Linked DNA regions of Homo sapiens. The protein of the gene in region 3 purifies or fractionates together with the protein of the main gene of each other region. This does not show direct contact. Each region holds a gene or a part of one and is shown on either strand. Other genes may lie near its edges. The genes, in order: COPG2, COPZ1, COPE and SACM1L.

Evidence for each region.
Region 1: the proteins of COPE (region 3) and COPG2 purify together in Homo sapiens (affinity purification with mass spectrometry; 5 studies listed by BioGRID and IntAct, with this or other methods). This does not show direct contact.
Region 2: the proteins of COPE (region 3) and COPZ1 purify together in Homo sapiens (affinity purification with mass spectrometry; 3 studies listed by BioGRID and IntAct, with this or other methods). This does not show direct contact.
Region 4: the proteins of COPE (region 3) and SACM1L purify together in Homo sapiens (affinity purification with mass spectrometry; 4 studies listed by BioGRID and IntAct, with this or other methods). This does not show direct contact.

Annotation. Positions count from the first base shown.
Region 1 is NC_000007.14:130,665,739-130,673,580, forward strand, and holds the start of COPG2 (coatomer subunit gamma-2), read right to left. Parts: upstream 3,011-7,842; 5' UTR 2,931-3,010; coding exon 2,894-2,930; intron 1,797-2,893; coding exon 1,744-1,796; intron 1,192-1,743; coding exon 1,111-1,191; intron 1-1,110. Other genes in the region: TSGA13 (testis-specific gene 13 protein), read right to left, coding at 3,276-3,445, 5,923-6,050, 6,996-7,138. UniProt on the Homo sapiens protein: The coatomer is a cytosolic protein complex that binds to dilysine motifs and reversibly associates with Golgi non-clathrin-coated vesicles, which further mediate biosynthetic protein transport from the ER, via the Golgi up to the trans Golgi network.
Region 2 is NC_000012.12:54,320,959-54,328,153, reverse strand, and holds the start of COPZ1 (coatomer subunit zeta-1), read right to left. Parts: upstream 3,024-7,195; 5' UTR 2,991-3,023; coding exon 2,973-2,990; intron 1-2,972. UniProt on the Homo sapiens protein: The coatomer is a cytosolic protein complex that binds to dilysine motifs and reversibly associates with Golgi non-clathrin-coated vesicles, which further mediate biosynthetic protein transport from the ER, via the Golgi up to the trans Golgi network.
Region 3 is NC_000019.10:18,916,371-18,924,030, forward strand, and holds the start of COPE (coatomer subunit epsilon), read right to left. Parts: upstream 3,018-7,660; 5' UTR 2,979-3,017; coding exon 2,853-2,978; intron 1-2,852. Other genes in the region: probable ATP-dependent RNA helicase DDX49, read left to right, coding at 3,372-3,486, 4,210-4,333, 5,293-5,378, 5,473-5,594, 5,956-6,143, 6,234-6,374. UniProt on the Homo sapiens protein: The coatomer is a cytosolic protein complex that binds to dilysine motifs and reversibly associates with Golgi non-clathrin-coated vesicles, which further mediate biosynthetic protein transport from the ER, via the Golgi up to the trans Golgi network.
Region 4 is NC_000003.12:45,741,388-45,745,928, reverse strand, and holds the end of SACM1L (phosphatidylinositol-3-phosphatase SAC1), read right to left. Parts: intron 2,397-4,541; coding exon 2,260-2,396; coding exon of another isoform or gene 2,194-2,259; 3' UTR 520-2,193; downstream 1-519.

The DNA.
Region 1 (7,842 bases), on a different chromosome or scaffold from region 3:
CAATTCCCCACTGATACTGAGGGAATATGAATCCATGAAACAAAATCATATTTTCTAAGGCCCTAGACATTTCATGAGTTTTTTTTAAGTCTGGGGCAAAAAAAAAAAAAAGAAAAAGAAAAGAAAAATTAATAACAACAGCAGCAAGCAGAATCTACATTTCATGAGCGCAAATATTTTTGCTGGTTTGTCTGCTATATCCCCAACACCTAAAACAGTGCACAGCACACAGCAGCTACGCAATAAATATTTGCTGAATGACGGAAGGAAAACTATTCCTGAATGCTTACTGTATGTTCAGGACTATTCTCAGTGCTTTACACTAATTATCTCATTTAGTCATTACAACTCTGTAACAGGTATTATCATAATCCCCATGTAGAGAAAAGGACATCAAGGCACATAAAATGGTTAAGCTACTGCCCAGAATTATTCTGCTAGTAATGGTAGCATAGGGATAATAAATATAAAATCTGAATATTAACAATCAAAGCTTTAAAACATCATTACACACATAAAAAAGAAAATATCTGGAATTTGCCTGATCTTGCACTGTATTTTCAGAAAAACATGAAGATCTCCAAATACATGTAAACAACATGCTCTAACTAGTACTCATTAAATTGAAACCAAAGGATTTATTGAGAATCTACTATGCGCATCACTGGTTTAGGATCTCATGAATAAAAAGGAAGTATAGGTTAAACATCTCTAATCTCAAAATCCAAAATCTGAAATGCTCCAAAATCAGAAATTTTTTGAGTGCCAATATAACACTCAGTGGAGACACTCATCAGAGCATTCTGGATTTCAGATACTCAGATTAGCAATAGTCAGTGAGTATGTATTCTGCAAATATTCCAAAATCCAAAAAAATCTGAAATCCAAAACACTTCTGGTTCCGAGCATTGCAAAGAAGGTATACTCAACCTGTATATGTCATAGTCCTCGTACTCAAGTTTTACATATTATTTTGTTAACCAAACGTTGTATATGTTAAAATTAAGTGAATTTAAAATAAATAAATATACTTTCCAGAAAGTATTTCACTGAATCTTCAGTATTTCTATTCCAGGACACACTTATCTGAGGAAAATAAAAATAATATACCTGGTTCAGTAAGTAAAGAATCTTTGTAAGAATATGCAAACATCTTCTTGGATTGATTGGAGTTTCATTGAATATACGAGCCTATGAAAAAACATAAAAAACATTGCTACTTTTCTACCTTTTCTATCACAGATTATAGCAAATCAACTTTAATACAGACTATTTTTAATCACGGTATCCAAAGAACATTGTCTATAGTTCTCAATTTACTAAGGTATCTGATAAATTATTACACGTGGCCTTGATTTTCCATCCTATACTTTCTCATTCCCTTAGGTTGACTACTTCAACTTTATGGGCTATACCAGTTAAATAAGGATCACAATACTTATCTATATCATACTAATACAATGAGATTAATACAGATAACTGATTTCAATAACCTTGCACTAAACACCTGTTCTTACATTTAAAATTCCCAACCTGTGACAGTCTTCATGTCTTTGCATTTCTATAAGCTCCAAATTCTCCTGTGACAAGTAACCCCTCTTTCTTTTCCCTCAAATCTATATTCCCTAAACTCTGTTACGTTTCTTGTTTTGCATGTCGTGATCACAGCAGCCCAGGGATTCTCTGCCCACCACTCTAAAACAGAATAGAAAAGAAAGGGCACAAGATACTTCCCAGTCATACCTCCTGTAAAACAGCACTCTTCTCCAGATGCTGGAAAGGATTGGAGCCACTACCTATTTATAAAACAAAACAAAAAAATGTCCTGAACAGCTGTTCTACACAAACTTATATACTTTCCAGAGAAGGGTACTGAATGCTTGGGAAGTGAACACTTGGATGGCACAGTGATAATCATGGCTAATACGCATACGAACTGAATGAAATCATTTTGATCCCGGCTCTGTCACTGCCATACTCGAAGAGCTGAGACTTCTCTTTCGCAGCAACCCTCTCCAAAATGAGTGTCTTCTTTCCCTGCCCTCTTTTTCCATGAATGTTAAAAATGTGTCATTTCCACAACAACGAAGATTAATGAGATTGTAGTAGGGTGCTTTTGATTTCCTTAGGTAAGCAGTATTTTATGTGTTTCTAACACTTAAGGAGAGGCAGAAACGAAGTTTCCCAGAGAATCATGCAGGCGTAAAGGTGCAAGAGGCCATGGAGGTTGACTAACCCAACCCCCTCTCACACTGTGGGAGATGCTACCAAACACTGAGAATTTTTTTCTTTTTGAGGATGCTTGGCATCTTCCCCATTTGCTCTGGACCAAAGACGGGCATCAAGACGCAGGTCACTTCTGGACACCTGAGCATTCAACGAGCTGTGTCCCACGGGACAGTCTTGCCCCCGGGGACCTGGACAGAGCCGGTGACCCCAGGAAAACGATAAGGTACCAGGCACCTGAACGTTCCTCCACACACACCCTGTGCCGTCGACCCCAGCCCCGGGAACAGGGTGCTCCCACTAGGGGTCCGACCCTACCAGCACCCCTGGACGCGGAGACGCGCGCACGCCCTCGGCCCCCGCCGGAGGCCCGCGCGCAGGGGAGGAGGCGGCTCGGAGGGGCTGCGCCGCAAGAGGGGCGGGAACGGGGCGCGCGCGGGCGCCGGGGCGGGAGCGCGCGGCCCGAAGGGAGGCTCCGGCGCCCGGGGGAGGGGCTACGGGCAGGCCCCGGGCAGCCGCGAGGGGAGGGGAGGGGCCGGCTCCAGCTCCGGCCCCCTGGCACGGCGGCGCCCACGCCCCCAGCCCCGCCGGCCTGAAAGCAGGTGGCGGCGGGCGGGGGAAGGGGCGTCCCGCGGCTGAGGGTGGGCCTCGGAAGCCCCGCGCGTACCAGACTCCTCGTCCTTCTTGTCGAATTTTTTAATCATCTTGGACGACTTCCCAGCGCCCAGACCCACCGCAACCGTCCCAGGCGCCGCAGCCGGCGAGCGGAAGAGGCTGCAGGAAGGCCGGCCCCGCGCTCTCACGCCGGTTGGGCCGCCGCGCCTTCACTCGGGGCCAAGGCCCGCCCTCCCCGGCCGCCCTCGGCCCCCGGGACGCAGCCACGCCCCCTTCTCCTCTTGCGGCCCGCCGGAGACTTCGGCTCGACCCTCCCGGCTTGCGACCCGGGAGCCCACGCCCGCAGCAGCAGGAATGTGGTTTTATTTGGGTGGCGACTTCTGCGGACCCCTCAGTCTCAAGAGAGCGAGGCGGGAGGACTGAGGGGTCTGTGTTCACCCGATGACCGTGGCCTTTTTGATAATCCACTGCGGGGCCCTCCCGTTGCGGAAGGCGCTCTCCCCGGGCGCGGTTCTGGTGGGCATGTCTTCCAAGAGCGATGCGAGTGTCAGTGGTTCCCGAATCACTTTGGAAATTGGCCTTTCACTCGCTGACTTCTTGGAAGCTACGACAAAGCACAGGCACCCTGGTGAATGTGGCTTTTCAGAAGTACTCGAAGGATACTTAATGTGAGATGTAAAGGAGACGCACTTGGAGGGACCAGAGGCTGGTCTTTAGAGGGTAGATTTTGGACCGTGTAATACCATTCCCAACCTATTTTATAATTTTTGGATTCCTTCATTTCATCAAAACCCAGTGGAAAATTCATTGCCAGTTTAGAGTCTTCCTTGTTCAAGCCTATTTCTTTCAATGATTCCATCTGAAACCATATTGACACTTAAGAAACTCACTAAATTAACGTGCATTCATTCCTAACTCATGTTCCTCTTTTTCTCAGAGTGTATGCTGGCTTTCTGTTCTCTTGTCTAAGAGTGTAGCTAAGAAACTTTGTCTGCCTTTGGCTTCACTGGCATAACTTGTTTAGAAATGTAAATTGGGTCTATACTCAACAGGATCGTGCCCCTGCAAAATTAGAGAAATTCTAACCTAGATTACATTCTACATCCTAGAGAAATTCTTTCCCTGAAATACAGATTTAAGATGAACTGTTGATATCCTACATATGGTATCATTTAAGATTTAACTCCGACTTGACTAAATGTACTATTAACTACTATGTTTGCTTTATATGGCTTGTAAAGGTCAAGTCATACTTTGTAGGTGGAGTTTTCTTTGAAGGAAATAGAAGTCTGCACTCATTTATTCTGGGGGTGAAAATAAACAGGCTTTGGGGAAGGAAACATCCTCTTCCTCTTCCTTGGCCCAAGGGTATTGGGAACCTAGGCAGAGACAGTGTAGATAATAGGCCCAGAGGTTCTCAAGGTGGGTAATGCCCCGGAGACCTGCTGAGAAGTAGAAGGACCTGAGTTCAGATTTGGGGCTGACCCTAAGACTAGCCCCTTGTAAAGCAAGATCAATCATTCTCTGCTGTTCTTCAGCTTTTCTGTATATCTATGAAGTTTTGTTTAATACCACAGGTTGTTTTTAGCTGTGCAGTATTTACGGAGTTAAGAGCATCAGTAGGTGGAAATGGGATGGGATGTGGTGGCAGATAGGTATAGCAGGAGCAGAGAAGCCTGAAGAAGCCAGTTAAGGGATGGTATAATATGACCCCAGGCCTTCGGTATCAGGACTATTTGGACTGAGGATGGCTGGCAGACGGGTTGAGCAATCACTGCAATGGCTTTGTGGGACAGGCAAGGATACCTTAGGGAGTCTCAGGAATTGTTTGAGGAGAGAAACCCAGTAGGAGAAATGGACCTTATCTTAAAACCATGAGCTGGTGAAGTCTGAGGACCCACCAATTATATATATCTAATACACAAATGTGTACTCAGTGCCCTGAAATTCTTCATTGGGTCCAAACTGCCTACTGGATAAAACCCAAACCTTTATTTAAATAATATTTAAGGCATTGTGGTATTTTCGATTTCTTGTTATTGTTGTTTGTTTGTTTTTCAGACAGGGTCTCACTCTGTTACCCAGGCTGGAGTGCAATGGCATAATCACAGCTAACTGCAACCTTGAACTCCTAGGTTCAAGCAATCCTCCTTCCTCAAGCCCCCCAAGTAGCTCAGACTACAGGTGCATGCCGCCACACCCTGTTAAATTTTTTTAAATTATTTTTTGTAGAGACAGGATCTCACTATGTTGCCCAGGCTAGTGTCAAGCCCCTGGCCTCCAGCAATCCTCCTGCCCCAGCCTCCCAAACTGCTAGGATTACGGACACGCCCAGCCTGTCAAGGCCTTTTATGATCTGTTTCATCTCTTTCACATATTGAAAGTGATATTGTTGGTGCTTGGTAAGTGTCAGACACTTAGTAGGAACCCTTGAAATACTGTTAAATAAATGATAATATGTGAGGAGGATTCTCATTGTACCCTCTGCCATACAACCTTATTCCAAGCCCCTTCTACCCCATTCCCTACCCCAATCCCAGAGACTTTTGTACCTCTAAGACACACAGACTTATCCTTTGGCCCTTTTAGAGCAGTTTTTTCTTCAAAGTATAATATGCATACCACTGGGTGGTTCTAGGTGGTACATAGATAAACATTTTAAAATTTCATTATTATAAATTTGATATAAGTGTTTCAGAAAAGCATATAATTTGTACATCAAAACCATGATATCAATGATATAGTATTAATTAGGACAAGATTTTTTAAAAATCCTTTTAAAAAATGCTAAGTAAATTAACAGCAAATAATACATCAATATGGCAAAAACTATTAAAGTGCTGGGTGATATAGCTTAGTAAACACTGCTAGAGCTTTCTTGAAATTTGAGGATTTAAACAGGGTCCAGAGCTTTGCACCTTTTGAGCCTCTATTTGTTGTTAACTTCCATGCTATAGGGAAAAATAGTCTCCAGGACTACCACGAGAGAAGCCAGTTTGCCACATCTATAATCCTCATGGATTGTATCTCCAGCCCAAATCTCAGTCCAGTAAGCCTTTGCTTTGAAAGAGAGGAGCTTACCATCTTTCCTCATATCTCTCTCATGGACTGGAGCAAAGGTGAGCTGAGGGTACATTTTCTTCTGTGTCCTCAAAGCGTAGACTTTTGAATACTTCCCTTCGCTCTTGAAATCATTGTCAGTGGAAAACCTTAACAAAGAAAGTTCTTTGTTTAGTAGATCCTAGGGCAGGGGGATTCATGGAACTATTCACTTTATTTTATTTTATTTTATTTTATTTTATTTTATTTTATTTTATGTATTTATTTTGAGACACAAGTCTTGTTCTGTCACCCAAGCTGGAGTGCAGTGGCATGATCTTGGTTCACTGCAACCTCTGCCTCCCAGGTTCAAGCGATTCTCCTGCCTCAGCCTCCCAAGTAGCTGGGATTACAGGCACTTGCCACCACGCCTGGCTAATTTTTGTATTTTTAGTAGAGACGGTTTTCACCATGTTGGCCAGGCTGGTCTCGAACTCCTGAGCTCAAGTGATCTGCCCACCTTGGCCTCCTGAAGTGCTGGGATTACAGGCATGAGACACCGCGCCCAGCCCCACCATTCACTTTAAAGTTGGCTACATTCTCAGAGAAGACAAGACAATGATAGGAGCCTGTTGATTGGTGCCAAGTAGGAATATTGTTCCGTGACAAGGGATGCTTCTGAACTTAACACTGTAAACCTTTGGAGGAACTCCAGAATCTCTTCTGTCCTCTCTAAACTACACATAGGCTGCTCTTGTAAGTAGTTTCACATAAAACCTCTTTTGTCTAATGTGTTCTCATAGCACATGGTTCCTGTGATATAGCGCCTAACTTGTATTGAGGGTACTTTTTTTTTTTTCCTGTTTCTTCAAAGCACAGACCTTGGAATATTTCCCCTCAATCTTGAAACCATTGCCAGTGCAAAACCTTAGTTTTGCATGACTGTTTCTCTTTGATTCATGTGTCAATGAGGTTAGGGTCATGTAGGGAAAGTCGTGTCTTACTATCTTTGTACGACCAAAGAATATGTCATTAAATTGTATGGCAAAGAACCAGAAACGTGAATAGGGAAAAGATAGGAAAGAAAGCAAGTACAAGAAGAAGCAAGATTTCACCTAAACCATTGTTCTCGCTTGGATGTGGGATCATCCGACAGTATCAAAGGGAAGATTGGTTTCAGCTTAGATCTTAACTTTTTTTTCTGAGGCATGCGGGGCAGCCAGAGGTTCTCAGTGGGTTTGTGCTGATGATGACTTTCCTGTAGGGAAACGAGGGAAGAAGAGTGAGGGAGTAAGCTGAGTCCCTTGGGATTTTAAGTTTGGACCAAGTTCCTGGACTAAGTTCCAATTCCCCTACAATCATGCAACAAAACCTGTCAGAGGGGGAAGTGGGAACTCAGAAACCAGAATCAGAGGAAGCCGTTCCCTGGGAGGGAAAACACTCTTTTCATTGCCAGATTACTTGTCCAAAACCTGTTCAGTTTCCTAAGTAATTGATTAAATTTGCCTACTGGCCCTTGGAAGTGAATGGCAGAGAAAGTTACCCAGTTTGGGGAAGGATTCAACCAGTGAAGTCCTTGGGGAAGTAAGTATTTGGCAATAAATTGGGAAATAGATCCATGGGACTTTACCTTCCTTTCTTGGAGATGGCTGCCTCATCCACATTCCATTCTCCTTAATGAGAAGGCCATGGAATGGGATGTTGTGAAGTAATAATTATACCATTACTAAAGGTCATAGAATCAAAGTCTTTCAGAAAGAATCTTAAGTCATCCAGTCTGTTTGTCTGTCCCTCCTAGCCCTTCCATAATCTCACTATCAAGTGCTCAATCTTTCTTTACCTAAAAAAAAAAAGATTTCACCTTTGATCAGCCAATAGATATCTCCCTGTAACTTTTACCCTATAGTCCAGAAGGAACAAATCTAGTCCTTCTTCCATAGAGTCCTTAAACATTTTGAAGGA
Region 2 (7,195 bases), on a different chromosome or scaffold from region 3:
TAGGCTCGTGCCACCACGCCCAGCTATTTTTTTTTGTATTTTTAGTAGAGACATGGTTTCACCATGTTGGCCAGGCTGGTTTCGAACTCCTGACCTCAAGTGATCCGCCCACCTCAGCCTCCCAAAGTGCTAGGATTACAGGCATGAGCCACTGCACTGCGCCCGACAGAGATACTTTCACATATAACTCCCCCAGCTTACCCACTACACACAGGCCCATTGTTAAAAGGGCTCCCCAATTATTATCTTCCTCATTCCTTTACCTTTAAGCAGGCTCCCTTCTAAACATATATAGGTAAGTCTAAAAACTTCCAAAAAAACCAATTCCCTAGAATCTATCCTAGTCTGCTAATTGGGTTTAGGGGGAGGTTTTTTATTCTTATTTTTTTAGAGACAGGGTCTGGCTTTGTCACCCATGCTGGAGTGCAGTGGCACAATCATAGCTCACTGCAGCCTCAAACTCCCAGGCTCAAGCGATCCTCCTGCCTCAGCCTCTTACAGTGCTGGGATTACAGGCATGAGCCACTGCACTCAACCTCTTGATTAAGAATACTTGCTGCCGGGCACGGTGGCTCACTCCTATAATCCTAGCACTTTGGGAGGCTGAGGCAGGTGGATTGCCTGAGCTCAAGAGTTCAAGACCAGCCTGGGCAACACAGTGAAACCGTCTCTACTAAAATACAAAAAAGTTAGCCAGGTGTGGCAGCACGTGCCTGTAGTCCCAGCTACTCGTGAGGCTGAGGCAGGAGAAATTGCTTCAACCCAGGAGGCAGAGGTTGCAGTGAGGTGAGATCACACCACTGCACTCCAGCCTGGGTGACACAGCGAGACTCTGTTTCCAAAAAAAAAAAAAAAAACTTGCTAACTGGCCGGGGTGCAGTGACTCACACCTGTAATCCCAGCACTTTGGGAGGCCAAGGCAGGCAGATCACTTGAGGTCAGGAGTTCAAGACTAGACCAGCCTGGCAAACATGGAGAAACCCTGTTTCTACTAAAAATACAAAAATTAGCTGGGCATGGTGGCGCGTGCCTGTAACCCCAGCTACTCAGGAAGCTGAGGCATGAGAATTGCTTGATTCTGGGAGGCGGAGGTTGCAGTGAGCCAAGATTGCACCACTGCACCCCAGCCTGGGCAACACAGCCAGACTCTATCTCAAAAAAAAAAAAAAAAAAAAAAAAAAAAAAAAAAAAAGAATACTTGTTAACTGCTTGGTACAGAAAATATTTAAAACTACTCAGATTTTAAGCTTTTTACCTATATTTGACCAACCGACATAAGGAATTAACTGTCTTTAACTGAAAGAGAGGAATTAAAACCTGTTATTCTTTTATCTGATGAGGATCTGAATGTGTATGCTTAGGAGATCTGAAGGAAAATAAAAGACAAGCTTCTTTGGAAAGAGGCCTAGAGTTCAAGCCAATTAAGGAAGAAGGCTGGGAGTTAAATTCCTACACTATACTACCTACCTACCTACACACACACACACACACACACACACACACACACACACACCCCTCCAAATCGCAAAATAGGGCACTTTTGAGAGAAATTCTCTGGTCCAGTTCTAAAAAGGGGTAACAGGTATTTTATTTGTTAGAACAAGCATAAAGCATCATATGGACAAGAGGGCTAATACAGCCCTTTAGCGACCACAATTCTCATGTAACCAGAGAGGGAGAAATTAGCATCCTAGATCATACAATAAGAATTCCTGGCCCGGCGCAGTGGCTCACGCCTGTAATCCCAGCACTTTGGGAGGCCGAGGCGGGTGGATTACGAGGTCAGGAGATCGAGACCATCCTGGCTAACACGGTGAAACTCCGTCTCTACTAAAAAATACAAAAAATTAGCCGGGAGTGGTGGCGAGCGCCTGTAGTCCCAGCCACTCCGGAGGCTGAGGCAGAAGAATGGCGTGAACCCGGGAGGCGGAGCTTGCAGTGAGCCGAGATCGTACCACTGCACTCCAGCCTGGGCGACAGAGTGAGACTCCGTCTCAAAAATAATAATAATAATAATAATAATAATAATTCCTGGCCAGGCGCGGTGGTTCAAGCCTGTAATCCTAGCACTTTGGGAGGCCGAGGCGGGCGGATCACTTGAGGTCAGGAGTTCGAAACCAGCCTGGCCAACATGGTGAAACCACGTCTCTACTAAAAATACAAAAAAAATAGCCGGGCGTGGTGGCACGCGCCTATAGTCCCAACTACGCGGGAGGCTGAGGCAAGAGAATAGCTTGAACCCGGGAGGTGGAGATTGCAGTGAGCCAAGATCGCGCCACGTGCGCACTCCAGCCTGGGTGACAGAGCAAGGCTCGGTCTCAAAAAAAAAAAAAAAAAAAAAGAATTCCTAAGGTCTAAATGGGTAGAGAAAAGGAGAACAGAATAAGGAGTCTAGAAAAAATATTCCACAATCCATGCTAACTTTATCAGGTATCCCAGAACTTTGATGGAATACTGATTATTTGACAAACCTATATAATAGGGATTAACAGGAAACCGAAGACAAAACAGTTTCCTGAAGGAATGTGGCAGGGAATCGGCAATGGAGAGTCAAACTTGGGAAACCATCAGGAGGAGTCTGTAACGACAAAACATCTGTATTCTTTTCTTACAATATGGGGCGAGTTTGGTGGTTTGGTAAATTAAAATCAGGGTATCATCCACAATGCTAAAAATAAGGGGCAACCTGAAGGGTCCTAATCCAGTACGCCTACAGGTCTGTGTATCCTAAGGAGTCCATGTGCTGCCTTCAACTTTCCACCGACTCTATGCCCTCTCCCCGGCAGGGCTTCCTACTCTAAACCAAGGCTTTAGCTCCTACACTAGGCCACACACTTATTCCAAAGGTCAGCAGAACGCTCAGTCCCCAAGAATTACCCGGAACTCTCTTTCCCCGTCTCCCACTCGGGCTGAACCCTGACTCCCGGCCCCTGTGGACACCACAGCATCTCTGCTGCCCCTCCAGCTCCTACCAAAATCAGCGCCTCCATCTTGCCCCGCAGCTGGTGCCGACGTGGAGCCGCAAAAGAAACGCCGCCGCTGATTGGCCATACGTTCCCATTAGGCCCCGCCTAGGATAAGGATCATTGGGTAAGGCTTGCTTTATTGGCCAATTATTGTACTAGCTTGCTTACCGGAAGCAAAGTGTCCAACCAGAAGGCTCAGGTGTTTGATTGTCAGCTTGAATACTCAATAAAACGCCAAAACCTCACGACTCATTGGGGCGGGAGGGTTAGTGGGGCGGGGTTGTTTCCATGGGGAACAGAAGAAGCGATTGTTAATTTTCAATTGGTAGGGCCGAGGACACGTGATATTGTCGGACTGATTTAGCGATTTTTAAACCGCACCCTCTTTAGGGGGCGCTGTGTCTCCTTAGCCTTTAACACTGGCGCTTTCTAACCGGAATCCTGCCCTAATCCCTATTTTCAGCGCCCGCATTAGGTCCATGATCTCTGTGGCTAGCCCTTCCCTCATGCTCGCTCAGGTCACTTCAGCATCCTCACAGAAAGTCTGCACAACCATAGAGTAGAGCCAAGAAAGGCCCAACATGTTAACTACATAAACCAAGGCTGCCAGGAGTTGATAGTCGCAATAACAATCTCCCTAAGGTGGAGTTCCAGGCTTTGCTGGGCCTGAGGAACATGAGAAGTCAGTTTGTAAAGGCCAACTTGAGCTCAACGTGAAATCGGCTTTGGAGATGGGGTTTGCGGGACAAACGGGGAAAGGGATGGGATTAGAATAAGAGAGGGGTTATAGGGAGTAAATTCTGGGGTTTTCCAATAGAAACAAGCCGTTGTGCCTGGGCGCGGTGGCTCAAGCCTGTAATCCCAGCACTTTGGGAGGCCGAGGCGAGCGGATCATCTGAGGTCGGGAGTTTGAAACCAACCTGACCAACATGGAGAAACCCCGTCTCTACTAAAAAAAAAAAATACAGGCCGAGCGTGATGGCTCACACCTGTAATCCCAGTACTTTGGGAGGCCGAGGCGGGCGGATCACGAGATCAGGAGATCAAGACCATCCTGACTAACATAGTGAAACCCCGTCTCTACTAAAAATACAAAAAATTAGCCGGGCGTGGGTGGCGGGCGCCTGTAGTCCCTGCTACTCTGGAGGCTGAGGCAGGACAATGGCGTGAACCCAGGAGGCGGAGTTTGCAGTGAGCTGAGATCGCGCCACTGCACTCCAACCTGGGTGACAGAGCGAGACTCCGTCTCAAAAAATATACATATATACAAAATTAGCCGGGCGTGGTGGAACATGCCTGTAATCCCAGCTACTCGGGAGGCTGAACCAGGAGACTCACTTGAACCTGGGAGGCGGAGGTTGAGGTGAGGCGAGATCTCGTCATTGCACTCCAGCCTGGGCAACAAGAGCGAAATTCCATCTCAAAAAAAAAAGAAAAGAAAAGAAAAGGAGAAGAGAAGAGAAAAGAAAAGGAGAAAGAAAGAAAAGAAAGAAAGAAAGGAAGGAAGGAAGGAAGGAAGGAAAGAAAGAAAGAAAGAAAGAAAGAAAGAAAGAAAGAAAGAAAGAGAAGGAAAGAAAGGAGAGGAAAGAAATGAGGCGTTGCAAAATGAGAAAAGAGAAGTTTACTGAATGCAAGAATTTCACAATAGGGAATGATTTTGATGAAGCTTGGCTTTCCCCTATCCCTTGGTTTCCTGATCCCTGACTCCTCTTAGGGCAGGGACACCTATTACCTTAATTATCCTAAAGGGATTTTTTCCCTCATCTCTGAAAATTATATCCTTAGGAGCCCTCCAAGAAGAGATTCCAAACTTACCCAGGAATTTTTCTTTTTTGAGACGGAGTCTCGCTCTGTCCCCCAGGCTGGAGTGCAGTGGCTCAATCTCGGCTCACTGCAAGCTCCGCCTCCCGGGTTCACGCCATTCTCCTGCCTCAGCCTCCAGAGTAGCTGGGACCACAGGCGCCCACCACCACGCCTGGCTGATTTTTTGTATTTTTAGTAGAGACGGGGTTTCACCGTGTTAGCCAGGATGGTCTCCATCTCCTGACCTCGTGATCCGCCCGCCTCGGCCTCCCAGAGTGCTGGGATTACAGGCGTGAGCCACTGCTGCACCCGGCCTTTTTTTTTTTTTTTTTTTTTTTAAGACGGAGTCTCTCTCTGTCGCCAGGCTGGAGTGCAGTGGTGTGATTTTGGCTCACTGTAACCTCCGCCTCCCGGTTGCAAGCGATTCTCCCTGCCACCTCAGCCTCCCTTGTAGCTGGGATTACAGGCGCCTGCCACCCCTGGCTAATTTTTGTACTTTTAGTAGAGACGGGGTTTCGCCATACTGGCCAGGCTGGTCTCGAACTCCGGACCTCAGATGATCCACCCGCCTTGGCCTCCCAAAGTGCTGGGATTACAGGCGTGAGCCACCGGGCCCAGCCACCCAGGAATTTTTCTAATAGTCGGAGTAGAATCAAGGAAACATAAAACAATACAATACAAGGGCGCTGTGGCATGTGCCTGTAGTACCAATTACCCCAGGGGCTGAGGCAGGAGGATGCTTGAGCCCAAGAGTTCGAGGCCGTAGTGCGCAGTGATTGTGCCTGGGAATAGCCACTGCATTCCAGCCTCGACAACACAGGGAGACCCAGTCTGTATATAAAAATAAGATAAAATAAAAAATTGAACAATACAATGCAAATTATAGACCTACAGTGTACTCTGACAGAAGGTGAATTTCTGGTGGAATACCAGGTGTTAAGCCTTATATCTGGAAGAAGTGAAGGCTTGTCCTTTTATTCCTCAAGGAGAGTTGTTCACACATTTACTGTGCCTGGCATCACAGTCAGTGGGTTGTCATTGGCTTTGCAGCTTAAAGGTAATACTAACATTTACTGCCCACTTATTATGTGCCAGGCACGGTGCTAAATCTTTAAATACATTATTGAATACATTTTTTAAAATCCTTATGAAGTAGCTGGGCATGGTGGCTCATGCCTGTAATCCCAAAACTTTGGGAGGCTGAGGCAGGCAGATCACCTGAGGCCGGGAGTTCGAGACCAGACTAGCCAACATGGTGAAACCCCGTCTCTACTAAAAATACAAAGATTAGCTAGGTGTGGTGGCAGGTGCCTGTAATCCCAACTACTCCGGAGGCTAAGGCAGGAGAATCTCTTGAACCCGGGAGGTGGAGGTTGCAATGAGCGAGATCCTGCCATTGCACTCCAGCATGGGCAACAAGAGCAAAACTCTGTCTCAAAAAAAAAAAAAAAAAAAATTCCTGGCCGGGTGCGGTGGCTCACACCTGCAATCTCAGCACTTTGGGAGACCGAGGCGGGTGGATCACGAGGTCAGGAGTTTAAGACCAGCCTGGCCAAGATGGTGAAACCCCGTCTCTACTAAAAATACAAAAAATTAGCCGGGCGCGGTGGCAGGCACCTGAAATCCCAGCTACTTGGTAGGCTGAGGCAGGAGAATCGCTTGAACTCAGAGGGCAGAGGTTGCAGTAGCCGACATTGCATGCTACACTCCAGCCTGGGTGACAGAGTGAGACTCCGTCTCAAAAAAAACAAATAAAATAAAAAATCCTTACGAAGTAGATGATTATTAAACCCATTTTACAGATGAGCAACATGGAGTTTAGAGCAGTTAAATAATTTACTTAAGGCTACAGAACTGTTTTAGCAGCCATACGTTTGAGCACAGGAGACTCTAAACCATGTTCTTACCCACAGTCCACTCCTCTAGTTTGTTGTACTGCCTCTCTTGCATCCCAGTCCTACCTCAAGGACTCTACCTCAGTGCCAGATATTCTACAAGGACCATAAGGAGGAAAAAGTGTGGTATGGTTGGTTCATGGGGATGGTTGGCTCCTTTTTCTGTGTAGTAACTGACAAATTTTAAGTCAGATATTGTTGCAGAAGATCGCTTGATTCTTAGCTCTCCAGCCTGTTGGGGTAATTGTGCTGTGGGAGGAAGACAATTGACTGAATTAGAGACATTAGTTATTGTTGTGACTTTGCTTTAATCAGTGAGAGAACTCTGCAAGTCTCTGTACCCTCTCTGGATGGACTATAGCTGTCACTTCTGGAAAGGGGAGAGGTTCAGACCAGAGCTTTCTAGGGCCCTAGCTAACTTTTTTTTTTTTGGAGATGGAGTCTCGCTCTTGTTGCCCAGGCTGGAGTGCAATGGCACACTGTCGGCTCACCGCAACCTCTGCTTCCCAGGGTTCAAGTGATTCTCCTGCC
Region 3 (7,660 bases):
TGGCCAGGCGTGGTGGCTCACACCTGTAATCCCAGCACTGTGGGAGGCTGAGGCGGGCAGATCACTTGAGGTCAAGAGTTCGAGATCAGCCTGACCAACATGATAAAACCCTGTCTCTACTAAAAATACAAAAATTAGGCCAGGAACGGTAACTCATGCCTATAATCCCAGCACTTTGGGAGGCTGAGGCAGGCGGATCATGAGGTCAGGAGTTACAGACGAGCCTGGCCAACACAGTGAAACCCCATCACTAGGAAAAATACAAAAATTAGCTGGGTGTGGTGGCACACGCCTGTAGTCCCAGCTACTAGGGAGGCTGAGGCAGGAGAACTGCTTGAACCCGGGAGGCAGAGGTTGTGGTGAGCTGAGATCGTGCCACTGCACTCCAGCCTGGGCAACAGGGCAAGACTCCATCTCAAAAACAAAAAAACAAAAAAAAAATTAGCTGGGTGTGGTGGTGGGCACCTGTAATCCTAGCCACTTGGGAGGCTGAGGCAGGACAATCGCTTGAACCCAGGAGGAGGAGGATGCCACTGCACTCCAGCCTGGGTGACACAGAGTGAGATCCTGTCTCAAAAAAAAAAAAAAAAAAAAAAAAAGTATTCCTTCACAGTCACAGTCCTGGAGGCCAGAAGTCCCAAATCAAGGTGTCAGCAGGGCCACACTCCTTCCAAAGGCTCTAGGGGAGGATACTTCCCTGCCTCTCCCAGCTTTTGGTGACTGTTACATTCCTCAGTTTGTAGCCACATTACTCCCATCTCTGCTTCCATCATCTCTGTGTCTCAAATCTCCCTCTGCCTTTTTTTTTTTCTTTTTCCAGTGGCGGGTTCTGGTGAAGACAAGAAAGCCTACTAGAAACATTCTTTTTTTCTTTTTTTTTTTTTTTTTTTGAGATAGGGTCTCACTTTTGACATAGTAAGAGCACCAACATCTCAGACAAACACTGCCACTTTAAGTTCCAGCCCCCTTTCTAGCCTCATGAATTTTAAGGAAATTTCTTTTTTCTTTTTTTTTAATAGAGAAGTCTCGCTCTTGTTCCCCAGGCTTGAATGCAATGGCTGGATCTTGGCTCACTGCAACCTCCACCTCCTGGGTTCAAACGATTCTCCTGCCTCTGCCTCCCAAGTAGCTGGGATTAAGGTGCCTGCCACCATGCCCGGCTAATTTTTGTATTTTTTAGTAGAGACGGGGTTTCACCAAGTTGGTCAGGCTGGTCTCGAACTCCTGACCTCAGGTGATCCGCCCGCCTCCCAAAGTGCTGGAATTACAGGTGTGAACCACCGCGCCCGGCCAGGAAATCACTTCTAACTACAAGCAGCCAGAAAGAGGAGACAGTAAAACACAGAAAGACAGCTCGGACAGAGAGAGAGTGGGAAGAAAATTTCTTGGGTAACTGCCAAACTTCACCTTCATACAACGGGCCCCAGTAAAACAGTGGGCCTTAATAAGCACATTCCTTTCCCTTCAGGTGCACTAAAATAGGCAAGCTAAAAGCAGAGTAGGGGGGTATGCCTGCAGCTGCAGAAAGATGTATGGGAGGCTGGGCACGGTGGCTCACACCTGTAATCCCAACACTTTGGTAGGCCAAGGCGGGCAGATCACAAGGTCAAGAGATGGAGACCATCCTGGCCAACATGGTGAAACCCCGTCTCTACTAAAAATACAAAAATTAGCCGGGCCATGGTGGCGCGCGCCTGTAATCCCAGCTACTCGAGAGGCTGAGAAAGGAGAATTGCTTGAACCTGGGGGCGGAGGTTGCAGTGAGCCGAGATCACGCCACTGCACTCCAGCCTGGCAACAGCGCGAGTCTCCATCTCAAAAAAAAAAAAAAAAGAAAAGAAAAGAAAAGAAAAAAGAAAGATGTATGGGAACAGACACACAACTCTCCCTCCCAGATAAGCACAACGAAGAGACACAGAAGCAGTTCAAGCCTCTGATAAACTCTCCGACCCTGAATCCTTAAAAACTCTTAGTCTGTAAAAGAGTGTTACTCTGACCCAACTCCGCCAGAAGGCGCCTCTCAGGTTTGTTTTCTCTAAAATAAACCTGTCTTGACTGGCAAGCCACCTTTCGTGTTTCTTTCCTCTTTAATTCTTACAACTTTGTCACCCAGGCTGGAGTGCAGTGGCGCGATCTCGGTTCACTGCAACCTCGGCCTCCGGGTTGAAGCGATTCTCCTGTCTCAGCCTCCCGGTAGCTGAGATTACAAGTGCCCGCCACCACGCCCGGCTAATTTTTGGTAGACTCATGGTTTCTCCACGTTGCCCAAGCTGGTCTCGAACTCCTGGGCGCATGCGATCTGCCCGCCTCGGCCTCCCAAAGCGCCAGAATTACAGGCGTTTGAGCCACTGCGCTGGGAAACTGTGTTTATCATTCTGAGTCCAGCGGAATACAGTGCCCGTCCAAAAAAGTGCTCAATGAAGAATGAATGAATGAATGGGTAAGCTCTGGGAGAAATAACCAGGCTGGTTGGGCAGGGAAACGTCCTTCTCTGAACTTTAGGGTTCTCATCCGTAAAATGAGGATAAGCAACAGTCTCCATCTCACGGGAACTGAAGGTATGGCTGAACAAAATAGGCTTATTGTCACTACAGTGGCATAAACACCTCCCTTACTCAAAACACTTTCAAGGGCGCAGAGAGAACGCTGTACGAGTGAGCAGTACCGTAAACTGTTACTGCTCTGGGTTCTGTCACGGGACAGTGACTACTCCTCACTGAACTGTGGAAGAGGTGGCCCAAAAAACGCGAGAAGAAAAGAGAAAGTTTTTAGACGCAGAACGCGGCTCGCGGCCACCAGAAAGCGTCCTCCGCCTCCGCCCCCAGCGTCCCCGCGCCCCTGCGCGGCCGCACCTTCACCCGCTGCGCCTCGTTTATGCACTGCTGGTAGCTGCCGATGTAGAAGGCGTTCTTTACGTCGAACAGCTCGTCTACCTCCCCGGAGCCGCCGGAGGCCGGGCCGGGGGCCGGAGGCGCCATTTCGCTGTCTTCTCACCAGCTCCTCTTCCTGAAAGACACGTCAGCCGGAAGCAAGACACGGGCACGCTAGGAAATGTAGTTTACTTTTTCCGAGCGGCGGCGAAGTAAGCCAATGGGAAGCTCCACAATAATATGCAAGGGGGCGGAAGGCGTAAGTGCGTCACGGAGAGCATCTCGGGAATTGTAGTGTGTTTCTGCAAGCCAATGGGATCCGGGGAAACATGATAAGGATGCGGTCGAGGCTGGGAATAGGCTGAGGGAGCTGGAGAGGGTGGGACCACGCAGGAGGCAGATCCAATAAACAGGAAGATTTTTCTCGTGACGTCGTCGGCGCGCGCCGGAAGCGCGGATCACACGGGCCCCTACAAGGGGCCCCTACAAGCGGCCACAAGGATGGCAGGCTTCGCGGAGCTCGGGCTGTCATCGTGGCTCGTGGAACAATGTCGGCAGCTGGGTTTGAAGCAGCCCACGCCCGTGCAGCTCGGCTGCATCCCCGCCATCCTGGAGGGTGAGTATGGCCCAGGGCCTTCCCCAAGAGGCCTCTCCGCTCCTCTCGACTCCTTTCCCTTCTCGCAACCTTTGCTTATTCCGGTCCCACGAGGCGAGGGGCAACCTCGGGCGTTACAGGAGATCCGGGGTTCCGGAGGACGACTGGACAGTGTTGGCATTTAGGTTGCATGACTGACTCGCTTTGTGTTCGTACGCAAGTGATGTAATCTCTGAAATTTTCATAGTCTCAGCACAGGGAGGGTTTGATGGATGACTAGTCCGATAGTATCGCAAAATCCTGCAGACCTGGTACTGCTATCTTTATTTTACAAATAGAAGTTGAGGCTGTCAAAATTGCTGGTAGATCCAGGACTCCTTGGTCCTGTGATTGCTCCTCTAGGAGAAGGTCTTCTCTCTGCTCCTCTAGCCCAACCCAGTTTCGCCATTAAAGAGAGGCCCACAGGAAGCCTAAGATGTGATAAGTCAGGGATTAAATAAACAAATGAAGGGGTCAACAGGGAGCACAAGATGCATATGAGGGAAGGGAATTCTGGATTCCCCAAATTCACGTGCTCCTGGACGGAGTTAGAACGAGGTGGTAGGAAGCTGTGGGCATCTCGGGTCAAATGGATATGGGTTCCAGTCCAGCCTGCCACTCACTGGCAGTGTGTCCTGGGCAAGGTCTCTGAAACCCAGCTGTCCACACATGGAGGGTGTTGATGCTGCTTTGTCCCCAACCCAGGTCGAGACTGCTTGGGCTGTGCTAAGACAGGCAGTGGGAAGACAGCAGCGTTTGTCCTTCCCATCTTGCAGAAGCTGTCTGAGGATCCCTATGGCATCTTCTGCCTCGTCCTGACACCCACCAGGTAAGCCCCCAGCAGGCCTCCTGGGTATGGGTTAACCAGCTGTGCTCTCTTGGGCAAGCACCTTTCCCTCTCTGAGCGCCCTTTTCCCACGTGTGAGATGAGCATGAAAATCTTGCTACCCGCTTCTTAGGGGTCCTGCAGAATTAAACAAGATGGCCCCGGTGCAGTGGCTCACACCTGTAATCCCAGCACTTTGGGAGCTCCAGGTGAGCGGATCACTTGAGGCCAGGAGTTTGAGACCAGCCTGACCAACATGGAGAAACCCCGTCTCTACTAAAAATACAAAAAATTAGCTGGGCATGGTAGCGCATGCCGTAATCCCAGCTACTCGGGAGGCCGAGGCAGGAGAATCGCTTGAACCCAGGAGGCGGAGGTTGCGGTGAGCCAAGATCGTGCCATTGCACTCCAGCCTGGGCAACAAGAGCAAAACTCTGTCTCAAAAAAAAAAAAAAGAAAGAAAGAAAGAGGCAGGCAGCAGAAAGGGTACTGGGACCTGGGCATATTGGAGCCAGTTTGAGAAAGGCCTTGAATGCCAGGCGGAGGGTTAGAATTGATTCTGGGGGTGTGTGAGCAGGAAAGGTCATGAGCCAGGGAGAGGCCAGGACAGAGTTGGTTGGGGGCAGAAAGGAGGCTGATGCTTGAGACCCTCTGGCTGGGGCAACTGGCTGGTGGTGAGGCCATTGCTGAAAGGCGAACTGGGGGAAGGCACAGGTTTGGGATAGGAAGAGATGCTGAGGTCAGCTTGGGTCGGGCTGGTGAAGGAGGGATGTTCCAGGCTGAGCCTGGCGAGGGGGCAGGGGCCACAATGGCCTCCAAGGCTCAGCATCAGAGCCTTTGTGAACAGGACTGGGCAAGTCAGGAGCCTGGGGGCTCAGGGAGGAACCCTGGGGATGGAGAGGGGAATGGGGGGCAGGTCCAGAACCACTACCTGACCCAGCCTGGCCCCTTCACACCCACAGGGAGCTGGCCTACCAGATCGCAGAGCAGTTCCGGGTCCTGGGGAAGCCTCTAGGGCTGAAAGACTGCATCATCGTCGGTGGCATGGGTACGGGAGCTGGGAGGCGGGGGAAGCCCCAGCATGGGACCCTAGCAGCTTTGGACCACCTGCCCAGCCCTGCCTCTCATGCTCTGTCCCCCAGACATGGTGGCCCAGGCGCTGGAGCTCTCTCGGAAACCACACGTGGTCATCGCCACGCCGGGGCGCCTGGCAGATCACCTGCGCAGCTCCAACACTTTTAGTATAAAGAAGATCCGCTTCCTGGTGAGTTCGCCCCGCCCCTGCAGACCTCAGGAGCTGGGCTCGGAGCCTCCAGGCCCAATGTCAGAGCCTGGGGCACCATCTCATCCATTTAGGAAACGTATGTCCGTTAGACTGTCCAGTAAAACGCTAGGAACAGTGACAAGGACCGTTCAAGGACCAACAAGAGGGGGCCCAGTCCTAGCAATGTTATTCGGGGGTAGGGCCTTGCTGAGACTTGGGTGAGGGGCAGGCCTCCCTTGGAAGGAGGGTACTCCAGGGCCTAGGGTCCATGTCCATGCCTCTCAAAGAGGCCTGCTTCAGGGGTGGCCAAGACCCGGGGCCATGGACGGCACCCTCACCCCTGCCCCCATTGGCACGGCAGGTGATGGATGAGGCAGACCGGCTGCTGGAACAGGGCTGCACTGACTTCACCGTGGACCTGGAGGCCATCCTGGCGGCTGTGCCGGCCCGCAGGCAGACACTGCTGTTCAGCGCCACGCTGACCGACACACTCCGGGAGCTGCAGGGTCTGGCCACCAACCAGCCCTTCTTCTGGGAAGCACAGGCCCCGTGAGTCCACAGCCCAGACAGCGTGGGGAGGGCAGCCCCATCCTACAGACAGGGACACTGAGGCGTGGCGGTCTATCTGTCCATCCCCAGGGTGAGCACCGTGGAGCAGCTGGACCAGCGCTACCTGCTGGTGCCTGAGAAGGTCAAGGACGCCTACCTGGTCCACCTGATCCAGCGCTTCCAGGATGAGCACGAGGACTGGTCCATTATCATCTTCACCAACACGTGCAAGTGAGCGGGGCCCGCCTCTCCCCTCCCACCGCCCTTCAAAGGAGGAGGTGGCCCGACGTCTTTGGTCTGGGACACACAGCCAGTCTCAGCACTCCCCAGCCTCTGCTCAGCCTGGAGGTCATGGGGGCTTCCCTCAAGGAGCCAAGGTCCCTCAATCTGAAGGTGCAGCCGGCCTTTGGGGTTCCTCAGCCCAGCCGTTGATGGAAGGGCCAGGAAACCCCTGCAAGCAGCTGTTTGAGCAGCCCATTTGCTGTGTTCTGGGGGTGTCACTGAGCTTTCCTGGGCCTTTAGTCCCATCTCAGAGGAAGTTGTGACAACTAACAGGCCTGGTGTGCGTCTGCACAGACAGAGACCCCTGGGGAGGGCAGTTCATATCTTCATTGAATTGTTTGGGAAGGTCATTGAGAAGCTGGAGGCTCTTCCAGCATGAGCCAGGATAGAAGGGCAGAAATCAAGGCGCTTTAAATGCGTTACCTCCCAGAAGAGAAAAGTTGGGACTGGGTGCAGTGACTCACACCTGTAATCCCAGCACTTTGGGAGGCCGAGGTAGGCGGATCACCTGAGGTCAGGAGTTCGAGACCAGCCTGCCCAACGTGGTGAAACTTCATCTCGACTAAAAATACAAAAATTAGCCAGGCATGGTGGCGAGCACCTGTAGTCCCAGCTACTGGGGAAGGTGAGGCGGGAGAATCACTTGAACCCGGTAGGTGGAGGTTACAGTGAGCCGAGATCACGCCACTGCACTCCATCCTGGGGGACAAAGTGAGACTGTCTCAGGGAAAAAGAGAGAAAAGTTTGGCTGCAGGGTGGCTGTCAGGCGTGGCAGGATCCAGCAGCTTATGTGATGGTCCCCATCCTTTCTCCCTGTGCCCCTCTTTCTCCTCTGTTTTCCTCTGCTGGCTCCTTCTTGGCCTTCTTGGTAACAGTGACCACCCCTAGCAAGTCAGTTTCCAGCCTTCCAGCCCTGCAGTCCCAGGGCCAACTCTTGTCAGTTCCAGCTCCAGGGAGGGATCAGCAGAGAGGACATCAGGCAGGCAAGCCGTCTGTCAACCCTCATCCTGCCTCTTTTTTTTTTTTTTTTTTTTGAGAGTCTCACGCTGTCCCCCAGGCTGGAGTGCAATGGCGCAATCTCGGCTCACTGCAACCTCTGTCTCCTGGGTTCAAACAATTCTCCTGCCTCAGCCTCCTGAGTAGCTGAGGCTACAGTCATACACCATCATGCCCGGCTAATTTTTGTGTTTTTAGTACAGATGGGGTTTTGCCATGTTGGGCAGGCTGGTCTTGAA
Region 4 (4,541 bases), on a different chromosome or scaffold from region 3:
TGATCATAACTGGAAAGCAAAATTGCAGAAGCTACTGATTTTCTTGCTTACTCTAATTTTTCTATGATGATCATGCATTGCTTTGTGTATTAATTTGTCTTCACACTGCTGTAAAGAACTACCTGAGACTGGGTAACATATAAAGAAAAGAGGTTTGACTCACAGTTCCGCATGGCTGGGGAGGCCTCACAAAACTTCATCATGGCAGAAGGTGAAGGGAAAGCAAAGCACATCTTAACACGGTGGCAGGAAAGTGAGCGAGCAAGGGGGTAAATGCCAAACACTTTTAAACCATCAGACCTCGTGCAAACTCATGAAAACAGCATGGGGGAAACCATCCCCCATGATCCAACCACCTCCCACCAGGTACCTCCCTCAACACGTAGGGATTACAATTTGAGATGAGATTTGGGTGGGTGGGGACACAGAGCCAAACCGTCTATCATTTTGCATGATTTTTAGCATTCTAAGATCAAAAAGAAAAACATCACTTTCAAAGTACATGAATGATACCAATAATAGAAAAGAATATGACATTTTATTTTCACTTATGGACATACAGTACATGAATTTAGAAATAAAATCGTCGCAGGATTCTGAAATACTGATACCTTAAGATCTAACACACTGATATTAGTCCATTCCCTACAAAGCAGCCACATTAGCAGTTCAGATTTGGTCTTTGTTGTAGCTGTTGACATTAAGTTCTTTAAGTGAAATGCCCAGCAGCATTTAAATAATATTTTACAGCAGACATGAACTAAGTTTCAATATTCCATCTTTGGAACAAATTATGCTTATTTACATGTTAACAGGTGGCTATATTTACTTACCCTATTGTGAGTTTAATGACTGATTTTAAACTACAGAGGGTTTTCCAGCTATTATTTCCTTTAGTTTCTAAAAGTAACGACTTATATTAATGTTTTATAAAAGATAGTGATGAAAAAAAGGTAATGCTGAAATAAAGGCGCTTTTAGAAATATTTAAGGACAACATAAGGTATTAATATTGGAAAAAAACTGTACATATTTTCAAGCACAACACTGAAATATTGCAGCAGTGTTTAACTGAATTATTTAAAATAGTGGTAATTATACTACCTTACATACCGTTCTAATATTTAAATCTCTTAATTACAATTTGAATATACAATCTGACTTACAATTAGAACTATGCACAGTTTCCGAAGCATATTTTTCAGGTTTGTTTTTGCACAAAAATTAACGTTTAAGTTGGTCCTTGATTTGGAGTACTATAACTACCTGGAAGCACTAAGTTTTAGACACATTCATTGATAGCCAACAAAATCCTTGACAGAGTGAAAAACATCAAGAGTACCATGCGTGAAAAAGCAGCTGTTACCCTCCAAGTGCAATATGAAATCTAGAACAAGACCCTCTCAGAGGCCTGCGTGTCTCAATGAGTGACCCTCAAAGAAACCAAAATGTATAGGAGGAAGTAGCTGACCAGTCATGGGCATCTTCCACATTGGGATAATCTTTAAAACAGAGGCAGCTTTGGACCTCTAGCGTAAGAGATAGACTTTACATTCTTTGATTTTATTTACACTTTTTTAAAAAGATAAAGTATATCTGAATTCTCTCATCACACCTAAACTGCTGGTGCACTGGCAGTTCAAGCTGATTAAAGTCATGAGGCAGCCCACCAGAGACTTTAAAGAACCCCAGACCTCATCCTCCTCTTTCCTATCATGAAGTCACAGACTGTCTCATCAAACTACTTGATGTCTGTAAGAGACTTACATTTTATAAACACAGTTAGCTTATTACTGAACTTTTAAGAAAAGTCCAAAGATGTGTGGAAAAGTATGCCTGCTAATAGTGACCGCTTCTACAATGACAATAATGAAACTGAGCTACAAAAATAATTTTGCTGTTTTAAATAATGAAAGGAGCTAGGTTTTTAAAATATATTACTTATTCTGCAACAGCTAATTAAATTGACAATCAATAGAATACAATGAACAGATTCAGCTTCCATTCTGCAAGCTGAATTCAGGTTATATTTTAATTACAGAATAGCTTCAAATTATAAATCTAACTGTCCCAATAGTAAAGAGACCATCAAGGCAGTAACATCAGATCAATTCTGTCATCATCCTGCATGGAGCACAAGATGTGCTTTTGGATAAAGGCATTAAAAAGACCTTGGGCTGATGTGGAAAGCGGGTCAGTAAAGACTCCAGTTCTGCACAATGGAATCTTCCAAGCCAAGCCGCTTTCCACAAATACAAATTCAGTCTATCTTTTCTTTCTGGACCAGTCTGGGAGCATCGACAAAATCTTTGCCATTGTAAAGAATGATAAAAAATGTTCCAATGCTTGCAACTCCCCAGAAGAGCACATAGGCCAGTGTTTCTGTCCAAGTGTCACCTGTTGATATTAAGAAACAAAAAGCTAAATAAGTCGTTTGTTGATATCAGACCCAGTTTTCAGCTGTTTAGCACATTTTGGCAACATTAAAGTTTACTAGCACATTCACAGGAAAAATATAAGAACCTCTTAATTAAGGTTTAAACCAGTGGTTCTCAAACCCTGGCTAGTACCAGAATCTTCTGCAGGGCTTGATAAAGCATCAACTGTTGGGCCCCAGGAATCTGCATTCTAGCAAGTTCCTAGTACCCAGGTGATGCTGATGCTACCGATCAAGAGGCTACACTTTGAGAACCACTGGACTAAATGATTTCATATTATATTATACAAATAATAATGATCACTTTTAGTATATTTTAATAATACAAATAACTATTAAGTTTAATTCATAGTTCTATAACAGATATGAGCTATTGTCAAAACACCTGCACAAAAAATTAATAGAATATTCATAAATACCAAACATAAGTTATACATAACTTTTCTGAAGTTATGTATATTTTGTAGAGTATTTTTTGCATATACACAAATATATAAAACAAAAGTCAATAACATTTTCTTTAGAGATGGGGTCTTGCTGTGTTGCCCAGGCTAGAGTGCAGTGGCTATTCACAAGCACCATTCCACTACTGATCAGCATGAAAGTTTTGTCCTGCTGTTTCCAACCTGTACTAGTTCACCATTCCTTAGGCAACCTGGTGATCTCCTGCTCAAAGAGGTCACCATATTGATGCTGAACTTAGTGCGGACATCCGATCAGCATAACACACTACAGACCAGAACTCCTGGGCTCAAGTGATCCTCCCACTTCAGCCTCCTGAGTAGCTGGGACTATAGGCACACACCACAGCACCCAGCCAATAACCTATTTTAATGACATATTTAACCCAACTCTGCTGATATGCATTTTCCAAAGTCCGAAGTTCATAAAGGTTAGCAGCAAGCCGGTGGGCAAAGATCTACTTTGTTTTACTCCTTGAATAGCTGAACCTAGAGAATAGCTTCTCTCTCTGCAACACTACTGGCCTCATTTGCAGAAGGAGAAATACATACAGGGAATGACAGCCAGTGAGCACACCACGGAAGAAACTAGCATCCAGACTCCTTCCTAACAAGCCCTCAGAGATCATGCTACATTTGTTTTCTATTCTCTTTGAAAACCACAGCAGGAGCTAGAAATCAGATATTACCATAACCAAACATCACAAAGTTTATCATAAGAATAAACTGACATGAGAAGTTACCATCCACAGCATCCAATCTCTTTTTACTCAAAATATACTCGAATTTGCATAATTGCTCATTTTCATGGCTCTGAAGTTTAAAATTCTTCTTGGACAAAAGAAGAAGGGCAGTTCCTTGTTAGCCACTCTGCTGGACACTCCCTAAAGGAATCATCCGTTTCATTCAAGCAGAGTTCTTGGTCTTGACTTTCCTGCCTCTCCAGAGGTTCTTTAAGTAAATGTGGGTATAGTCACAACAACAAAATGAACTAATTTAACAGTAGAGTGGCTCCCCAAAAATGGCATGCGCTGGGCAGTGTTTTCAGGAAAGAAGGCAGAGGACCCAGAGAGGAAATGAAAGCAGGGCTGGCCGCTGAGGAACCGGCACATGCTGCCTCTTCCTTCCTGCCCTAAAACCTGCAGTCATGTCCCAGGCAATACCTGTGCTTCAACCTGTTTTTGTATTGTAAGGTAAGAATGCTTTTTACATTTTTAAATGGTTATAAACACAAAAACAAAGAATGTACAGCCATCCATAAAGACAAAAATATTTACTACCTGGCTCTTTACAGAAAAATTTTGCTAACTATAATAATAATAAGATGGCTCTTTCTTTCCCCCTACTCAACATTTCAGCATTTAGTTAAAACTATGTCACGACTGTCTACAGGGCTGAGCACTGAGGGGAATACAGAGATGAACAGGTAACTGAGCCTCCCTATCAAAAAGGTGACAGAATTAGTGGTGGTGGTGGAGTGAGTCCTTAATTCAGCAAACATTTACTGAGGGCTCACTATATCCTGGACAAAGGAGATAAAACAATGAGTAAGACACAGTCTTTACCTTCAAAAAGTTGCTGATCCAGTGAAAAAAACAAACAAGTATGCAAATCATTACCATCCAAAAAGAAATACACACTGGG